3 linked regions of the Homo sapiens genome follow. The protein of the gene in region 1 purifies or fractionates together with the protein of each later gene. This does not show direct contact. Each region holds a gene or a part of one and is shown on either strand. Other genes may lie near its edges. The genes, in order: H2BC6, MIER3 and MBTD1.

Region 1 (2,631 bases):
GCCAGGATGGTCTCGATCTCCTGACCTTGTGATCCGCCCGCCTCAGCCTCCCAAACTGCTGGGATTACAGGCGTGAGCCACCGCGCCCGGCCCTTTTTTTTTTTTTTTTTAAGAAGGAGTTTTGCTCTGGTTGCCCAGGCTGGAGTACAGCGGTGCAGTCTCAGCTCACTGCAACCCCCACCTCCCGTGTTCAAGCGATTCTCCTGCCTCAGCCTCCCAAGTAGTTGGGATGACAGGCGTGTGCCACCCTACTCAGCTAAGTTTTTGTATTTAGTAGAGACGGGGTTTCACCATGTTGGTCAGGCTGGTCTCGAACTCCTGCCCTCAGGTGATCCACCCGCCTCGGCCTCCCAAAGTGCTGGGATTACAGGCTTGCGCCACTGCGCCCGGCCCAAGATTTTTTGATTAAATAAATACAAATAAAGCACATTAGCTATTATTCTGAACACTGCTACATTAGCTACATTGAAAATTAAAAAAGATGTTAAACAGATTTTAAGGTTTTCTCGTCATCACTGAAGTGAGAAAAACAAATTATTTTGTGAAACAAAGATAAGACACAATAAATTCAGAGTACACTTTTGTTAGATGCTAACCCACAGAGCGGAATACTTTTTGCGCAGCACCTTCATTCCTGGAGACTTAGGGCCCGGGAAATGGGAATGGTGGCAGGAGAGGAGAAGGGCTAGGGGGCTGGGGAGCGTGGGGTGAAGGAGTGGGGGCTTAAAAAGGACAGTCAAATTTAGGAAGAACAGTTTCTTAAACTGAAGTTAGCTAAGCAGCGGGCTTCAGCCAAAGATAATAATACTAACTTGAAAGTAAAGCTGTTTGTTAAATAGGCTTTCATTTTAATTTTTTAAAAAATATTTTCACTAGTTAGACGGAATATTTATTTCTGATCCTCGTTGTAGGGCTAAACTAGGTGTGACTTGCTTTTCCATTAAGGACTGTAGCCATTTTGGCTAAGAAAGTCTTTCCTGTCTTAGCTCTCTTCAAGAGATGCTATTTACTTTTTTGTTGTTGTTTTCTCCGGAGCTTTATTGCCTACCCTTTATTTTCACGATGTGTTTGTGCATTCTGTAAAAAGTGGGAAACACTGTTCTCCGGATTGTGTGGGTGATCGCCGGTCGCCTAGCTTGCCGTTCTTCAGGTATCTCCTGCTGCTCCAGAATCTACATCTGAATGTCAAGGCATAGCTTTTCCAGGAGCTTTTAAACCGACCTTTCAATTCGAAGACGTAACTGCGCCAGGAGCTTTGTCTCCCTGGCATATAAAAGCATAGAAGAGAGCAACTTCTGGTTTTTAAAATAAGTAAACTAATCTGAATTGTTTGCAATGGTAGGAACTTGTTATATAAAATGTTAATTAGGTGGCCCGTGCTCGAAAACTGCTCTCAGGATATGACCAATGGGAGAGTAGACCTAAGCTCCTTCATTTGCATGCAGACTTCACGACAAAATAACGAATCAGAGTTGGAGAAACTAAATCTTCATTTACATAACATTGTCTACAAATTCCGAGGATCAGGAGATGTAGATTTCATTTTCTTTCCTAACTGCAGAACAGCAAAGATAGCATGCCTGAGCCAGCGAAATCCGCTCCCGCCCCGAAGAAGGGCTCCAAGAAGGCCGTGACCAAGGCGCAGAAGAAGGACGGCAAGAAGCGCAAGCGCAGCCGCAAGGAGAGCTACTCCGTATACGTGTACAAGGTGCTGAAACAGGTCCACCCCGACACCGGCATCTCCTCTAAAGCCATGGGGATCATGAATTCCTTTGTCAACGACATCTTCGAGCGCATCGCCGGCGAGGCTTCCCGCCTGGCGCATTACAACAAGCGCTCGACCATCACCTCCAGGGAGATCCAGACGGCCGTGCGCCTGCTGCTTCCCGGGGAGCTGGCCAAGCACGCTGTGTCAGAGGGCACCAAGGCCGTTACCAAGTACACCAGCTCCAAGTAAACTTGTCCCTGCAACTGCCTTAGTAAACCCAAAGGCTCTTTTCAGAGCCACTCACCTTTTCACAATTGGAGCTATATACTGACATGTGAAGATACTAGAAACTCCTGCAGCTGAAATAGGCATGTTTTTAAAACTTAAAATGGCACTCACTGTCTGGGCTGGTGGCTTTATGAAACTCTGGTTTCCGTGTTTTATGAGGTATCACTCGATAGTACCTAAGAGGCAATAGTAATTTCATAGTTTTGCTCTACGAAGAGAAACTTCGTTTCTCAAGAGTCCTTAAAAATACGGGTTTTACCAAAGAAGCCCATATTATGGGGGGCTGGAGCGGGGGTGGGGAAGGAGGAGAGGAGACTGCTGCTTTCAAGTAGTTCTTAATGTTGAATTTGCTTTTTTCCTTTCCTCAATTACTTCAAAAAGGTCTTAATTTGGATTTTTATTTTAGGTTCTAAAGGAAAAAATAAAACCCTCTTCCCTCTACCGCCTCACCTGTCTGGTTTCACCAATTAGACTTGAACAATTCTCAGTGTGCAACCACACTCGCGCTCGCACACAAACACATACACACATTGTTCATTGATCGACAATCCCCATCTCATCTTTATCATGTTCTTAGAGAAGTTGGGTCTCCATTGTTAAGGATTCTCCTAATCACAAAAACTGACTATATACCT
Region 2 (3,661 bases), on another chromosome or scaffold:
GTCTCCTTGCGGCTTGTTAGCTCAATTTTTTTAGTGCTGAATAATAGTCCAGTTCTGGAGGTGCCACACTTTGTTTATCCTTTCACCTCAAAGGACATACAGGTTCCTTCCAAGTTTTAGCAATTATGATGAAAGCTGCTATAAACACTTTTGTGTGGACATAAGTTTTCAACGCATTTGGGTAAATGCCAAGGAACAGGATTATTTAATTATACGGTAAGAGTATGGTTGGTATTATAAGAAACTTCCAAGCTATCTTCCAACGTGGCCATACCACTTTGCATTCCTACAGGCAATGAATAAGAGTTCCTGTTGCTTCCCATCCTTACCAGCATTTGGTGGTGTTAGAATATGTTTCTAGTTGTTTTAGTAACAATGTTTCTTCCTTCAGCAACAGCTACTCTCACTGCTGAAGAGAAATTATTTTGAGGCCACAAACCTCTGAATGGCTTGATAAGAAAGGAAAGTCAAGGAGAAATGAGAGTGAGACTTCCTAAAAAATACAGTGAGTCCACTTTCTGTGTCAACTGTTTATGTGAAAAGATATGTGAATATACTATCAGCCATTCCATAAGCAGGCTGTGGCATCTCTGAGCAAATTAGTCATGTTAGAATGATATCTGAAATGCTATAAGGGAACATTAGTAAGTTGTTCTTTTTTCCTACTTAAGTGACTTATAAATTAGTTGCTTACATTCACTGTAACTAGTAATTTATCTGTACTAATCTGCCTAATTTACCTTATTCTTCTGTATAAGATGAAAATCTTTTCCAAAAAGCATGAGTGCATGTTCAAAGCTTCGGCATTCTTCTTCCGTCCATGCAGTCATTCCTTCTAAGAAAAATTTTAAAATAAAATTTATGGGCCCCCAAATTTTCTTATGTGAATCACTGATTTTCAGTATGTTTTCCCTGTAAAAGGTCACAAACTCTCTCTCTCTCTCACACACACACACTCTCTCTCTCACACACACACACACTCTCTCTCTCTCTCTCTCTCTGTATGCAGGAGATTTCAGTTAGAATTACCAAAAGCATGCATACTACAGTTCAAGTCTAGAATACAAAAATATAAACACTGCTTTTTTTCCACTACATTATGGGATGAGAATTTAAGTTTTCTATAACATGCCTGTTTTTCTGATTAAAAAAAATTTTTTTAAACAATGAGCGTATTTTTCAATTAGAAAAAAAAACTCTACCTCCTTTATTGGGGGAAAGAAGCTCTGTTTTGGTCTTACTTCAAAACCACAAGTTCTAGCCAGGTGCGGTGGCTCATGCCTGTAATCCCAGCACTTTGGGAGGCCAGCGCAGGAGGATCACTTGAGCCCAGGAGTTTGAAATCAGCATGGGCAACATGGAAAAACCCTGTCTTTACAAAAAAACAAACTAGCCAGGCGTGGTGGCGGGCACCTATAGTTCCGGCTACTTGGGAAGCTGAGGTGGGAGGATCACCTGAGCCCACGAGATCAAGGCTATACTAAGCTGTGATCATGCCACTGCCCTCCAGCCTGGGAGACAGAGTGAGACCCTGTCTCAAAAAAGACAAAAAACAAAACCACAAGTTCTTTAATTAGAGACCATAAGTAAAGCATAATCAACACATATTTATTTGAAATTGGTGTGTGGAGTGCTATACTCTGGAAATATAAAGGAAATAAGAAACAGTCCATGCTCTCAAAATAATAAATCCCATTCAATTTCCCAGCAGATGTTAATGTTGGTGAATTCCGTATCTACTTGGGGCAGAGACCTGGAAGGTCTTCAAAGAGTCACAGCCTAGACTTAAGATTAGTTATTACTCATCTGTATCTCTGAAGTGTCTCATTTGACATGGGAGACCAGGTCCCCAAAGCCATTAATAGCAGTCCGTAATAAAGGTGAAAAATAGTTTGAACTAAGGAAGAAACCAGTATTTTGAGAGTTTTGAGAGCCTAAAATAATTTTTTTTCAAAGAAGCAGCTTTTCTAAGGGAGACATTTTAATAGACTATCTCAATTCATAAGTTTAAATGTATTATTTTTAGTTTTAATACCTTCCCAAGTCATCTAGTAATATTACTAAGTATTATTTTCATTCTACACATATTTAATGAAAGCTATGGTGCATGCAATCCATTTATATAATGACAAAAAATACTGAAATAGAAGTTAACCATTTTCCTTGACACACACAAAACATAAGAACTATAAAATGTTATTACATGATTACTAAAAATACAATTCTTGAAATAAATTCAGCGGAATATATTATACATGTTTCTTTTTTAATCTTTAATCTCCTTTTCATTTCCTGTCTGGCTGAAAAAAAAAAAGAAAAAATCTTTTTTTCAATGAAATCATAAAACCATTCTTTTTAATTACTTTGGACATATTGTCATGTCTGGGGTCTGCTTTGTTCTGTAACTATTTCTTCCAGAAAGTAGAGGTGGCAGGGGGGTGACTAATTTGTGTTTGAACAGTCTCTGATACATCTAAAAATAGAGTGCAAGAAAAGGAAAAATTATTTGCTATGGAGCTGAACCAGATCTTACAAAAGTGTTACAGGATTGCTCTGTCCCTTAGGATACTTTGCTTATTCTGATCCCCAAATGACCATCCCTGTCATGTCCCTCTCTTAAACCCAAGTGTTTCTTACCTTGAGAGGCCTTTCCATTGCAGCAGTATCTTTCGATTGCTTCCTTTATATTGTGGTTACACTTGAGAAGTTCATATAATGCCTGGGATGGATATTCAATAAAAAGTATTAAAAGTTCATACCTAACAGCATTTTAAAAAACAGGTGTAAGAGTTTTGATAAATATTGGAGTCTTGATAAACACTGAAATCCTCTCTAATTTCAGGGCATTTGAAGGTATATTTGCCCAAGCATTTAGTCTATATAACTATCATGCAGATTGACTCTGGTACCATGTGAGTTTGTTCATCCTCATGCTACCTCTCAGAAGTCACCTGCCTGTATCATTCTTGACTTTTTTTTAAAAACAAACAAATAAAAACACTAGGTCTAAGATTAGAGTTTCCCCTATTTTAGATGTTTCTTTTTCTAGTTTGGAAAAATTAGTTACAGTCTGTCCCTTGATGTCATTTCCTCCCTGTCTCTTTTAGTTTTAATATAAGGGAACAGCAGCAGGCCTGGAATAATAGGCATGGCACTTCAGACTAGGATTATAACGGTCTCCGTTATTTCCATCTACTATGAAAGGTGCCACTTTTCAAAATTAGAATATATTCCTATTAAATCTGCTTGGAATTATGAACATAATAAACAGGAATAACAGAATTCAATTGAAAGTTAAATAATCTATCTACCTTCCCAAGTAAGTTTTAAGGAAGTGAAGATGGTTCAATATTAGGAAAACTTTTAATATATCAATAGCCTACATTTAAAAAAATCATCTCTGAGCTAATTACCCTGATCTGATCACTATACATTATGTGTATCAAGACATCACTGTGTACCTAAATATGTATAATTAAATTTCAATTTAAAAAAATCAAATCAACAGCTGCTTAAAAAGTATCTGATATTCATTTCTAATTTTAAAAAGAAAAAACCCATAATAGTTATAAATAGATGGATATTATCTTGCTGTAATAAAGACAGTAGAACCAAGGATCAGTATTATTCTTAATGTAAAAACCTTAGATGTATTACTTCC
Region 3 (3,286 bases), on another chromosome or scaffold:
AAATGAACTGTCATTACAAATGAACCTTTTTGGTACCTGTTGGGAGATTTTGGGATTTTTAGAAGTTAGGCCAGTCACATCTCCAGCTTCTTTTGCTGCAGAAATATGCAACTGAACTCCTCATGGAGGGGTCATCACCACAAAGGTCATGGAAGGGTCATTATTTCTCTTGTTGGCATTTTATTGCAGCCCATTTTAAATGTTTGTACAGAAATATTTTTCATTCTGTGAAAATTTATTTGGAGTTCTGTATGAAACTGGAAGAACTCTGGATACTTTTATATGTTCTCTTTTAATTAAAAAAATGATTAGAATTATCCTAACACTAAAGTGTTAAACTGGAATGGTTGACAAGATATTCAGGATCTCAGTCTACACATTGAGGGGTTGGGGAAAATGTAATGTTGTCCTTAGTTTATTTTCCTTTCTAAAAAAAATACCCCACGAAAGGGATTCTGATCAGTTCTCTGCCATTTCCCTCTATCTGTGAAATAACAGCTTCGTATAACCACAACCAAAAACAGATGTTCTGTATTAGGAGAATCGAATTGAAAGTTATTCAAAGCCAAAATAAGTTTAGATTTCAAAATCATTCCAGCTCTGCTTTTATCTATCCTGGATTTGGTAGAAAACTAATTTGAAAGAGAATTTAATTTTCTTAAAATTCCATATATATATATATATATATATATATATATATATATATATATATATATATATAAAATTGTCTTTAATTGTATTCAGGATTTATTTTAATAATAACCGATTTGGACCATTTTGAACATTCCCTGTTTTAAAATTCATATGACTTCCTTTTAAAAAAAAAAAAAGGATACAAGGGTAAACTGGTGAAAGGTTTGCTCTCTGCATTTTCTAACTTTCTACTGAGTTGTGACTGAATGAGAGCGCTCTAGCGTTTACCAGTGAGGTTCATAAACTAAACTCTCAGGAATTAATTGCATCTGTTCTAGAAGTGCTTCTGGGTCTTAGCCTGGCCTCTTCAGAGTGGTAATATTGACCATCTCCTCTGGAATATAGGTAGGGCTAATTAGAAATTAATCAAAATGATTAACCTCTACAGTCCTTCAGCCTATGGAATGCTTTAAAAAATGTTAATGGAAAGCCCCAGGAGACCATTTTAGGTAAGACTTTTGTTTGAATTTTAAAATGCATAGAACGTTAAAAAAAACCAGCAATTTATTTTCTAAAATATTGCTCTACTTTTGGGAATAATAGCATTGGTAATACGCACAGGTTTACCTCATTCTATGCAAGAGGGGTTAATAACATAAGGTTTTATAATAGCTACTGGAAGTAAAATTTGTTACTTTATAGTGTAAGAATGTATGGAATCGCATGTCACCATTTCTTAATACTGACTCTTTAGGGGCATAAATGCAGATCACATCAACGCAAGTTGATTCTCATGTGTCAAATATATGTGAATTCAGCTGTTAAATTACTGGATATTTATCTTAACATTGCTGAGAGGGACCTACTGTAAATGTGACATCCTCACACTTCCCATATCTTTAACTTTGAAAAATCTTCTTGTAAACTTAAAGCCTAGAAGTATTCCAAAGCAAGGGTTAGAGCAGTCTTTATTCTCAGGCTCACTGAATTAAACCCAGGACTAATTCCACAGCACAGGCACAAGAAGCCTGTTGTGTAGTGTACTCTGCCAGTACCTTGGATTTAGGAGCTCCATGGGGAACTGACTAAACCAGGAGAGAGAGGATTTGGAGCTAGTCAGTCCTGGTAATCTATGAAATGCTCATTTATACCCAGGTTTCATAAGCTTCCAATTCTATAGCAAACCCAGGCTCTGAGTGTTTTAGAATTTCCTAATTCATGAAGTGTTTCTTGTCTTGATCCCGTGACCAACAGTTGAAGGTTGGTAAGGACTTTTCTACAGTCTGAACACAACCTAAAGCCCTCTTTCATTGTTCACACACTAACTCCTACTGCCGACGAACCGAAAAATAATTAATGCAGAGGAGATTTATGTCTTAGCCATAACTCCAGTTGTACAACTCAATCGCCCCATTCTCTTTTACGGTTCAAAATGTACTGCTGACCTTGGGTTTGTTTTTGTTTTGTTTTGTTTTTCCTGTTAGGATTTATTTGGGGACTTTTGGTAGTTTAAACTCTTTAACCTTTTCCTTGCCGTGTATGAGGAAAGCTAAAGCTGTTATCAACTTCTTATTCTACGATACTAACACGGGTTTTCAGTGTTTGTTTGTTTTTATTATTATTATTAATTTTGCGTGATGTGAATACCCTCTCCCATCAATATTTGTATTATGGTGCTATATATTGGTAATGATCCTTTAATATTGGGAAGGGATTTTAAAAATACTGTGATTAAACTGGGTTTCTTCCTTTGATTTTCATATTTTAAATAAAGCCACAGTCATTTATACAAAAGAAAAGCATCTGTCCCTGGGCAAATCTTTTGAGGACAGAGGTCAAAGTAAACTGCATAAGGTTTTTACATCATTTCTGTATGTATTTGATATATAGATCAATATCTGTACAAATTTAATCTTTTATTTTCTTGGTAACTCGTGATCATTGAGAAAGTGTTTGAAACTTTCTCATGAAGTGTATATATAATGGCGTGAAAAATTCCTTTGGAAAAATTTATGTTCCTTTCATTTTTACCAAATTGCAAATTTTCAGCATGGATGTGAAAAGCATTAAAATTATAACTTTGTGTACAAGATGAAAATAATTCACTAAATTTGCCCTTTTTTACACAAAATAAAATGTTAAAGTTAAGCTGGATTTGAGCAGTTCTTTAATATGCTTTGGTTTGGGGGGTTGCTTTTCTATTGCGTGCCCTCTATAAGCAGTCAGAGACCCCTATGAAAGTTGGATCAGCCCCTTCCTCTTACAAGGGGTAGCAGGCACATGAGTGCTGTAAGGAAGAATTTTCCACTAGCTGCCAAGGGAGCCAAGAGTAGTATGGTTAGACATATGGATGAGGTTGCATTGGAGGTGGGATTTCATGGGCAGGGAGGGAAAGGGCAAAAACCACAGCAGGAGCCAAGGTGAATAGGGACCTTTATGGGGAAATTAAATCATCTTAGCTAGAACATCGTGTTTTGGGGTTGGCATGCTTAGTAGGAGACTTTTTTTTTTTTTTTTTTTTTTGAGATGGAGTCTTGCTCTGTCACCCAGGCTGGAGTGCAGTGGCGCTATATCGGCTCACTGCAACCTCCACCTCCCATGTTCACACCATTCTCCTGCCTCAGCCTCCTGAGTAGCTGGGACTACAGGCGCC

The links.
Region 2: the proteins of H2BC6 (region 1) and MIER3 purify together in Homo sapiens (affinity purification with mass spectrometry, with the first as the bait; one large-scale study listed by BioGRID). This does not show direct contact.
Region 3: the proteins of H2BC6 (region 1) and MBTD1 purify together in Homo sapiens (affinity purification with mass spectrometry, with the first as the bait; one large-scale study listed by BioGRID). This does not show direct contact.

What each region holds. Positions count from the first base shown.
Region 1 is NC_000006.12:26,182,220-26,184,850, forward strand, and holds H2BC6 (histone H2B type 1-C/E/F/G/I), read left to right. Parts: upstream 1-1,541; 5' UTR 1,542-1,576; coding exon 1,577-1,957; 3' UTR 1,958-2,011; downstream 2,012-2,631. UniProt on the Homo sapiens protein: Core component of nucleosome. Nucleosomes wrap and compact DNA into chromatin, limiting DNA accessibility to the cellular machineries which require DNA as a template.
Region 2 is NC_000005.10:56,928,027-56,931,687, forward strand, and holds part of MIER3 (mesoderm induction early response protein 3), read right to left. Parts: intron 2,720-3,661; coding exon 2,638-2,719; intron 875-2,637; exon of another isoform or gene 836-874; coding exon 741-835; exon of another isoform or gene 1-740.
Region 3 is NC_000017.11:51,176,920-51,180,205, reverse strand, and holds the end of MBTD1 (MBT domain-containing protein 1), read left to right. Parts: 3' UTR 1-2,781; downstream 2,782-3,286. UniProt on the Homo sapiens protein: Chromatin reader component of the NuA4 histone acetyltransferase complex, a multiprotein complex involved in transcriptional activation of select genes principally by acetylation of nucleosomal histones H4 and H2A.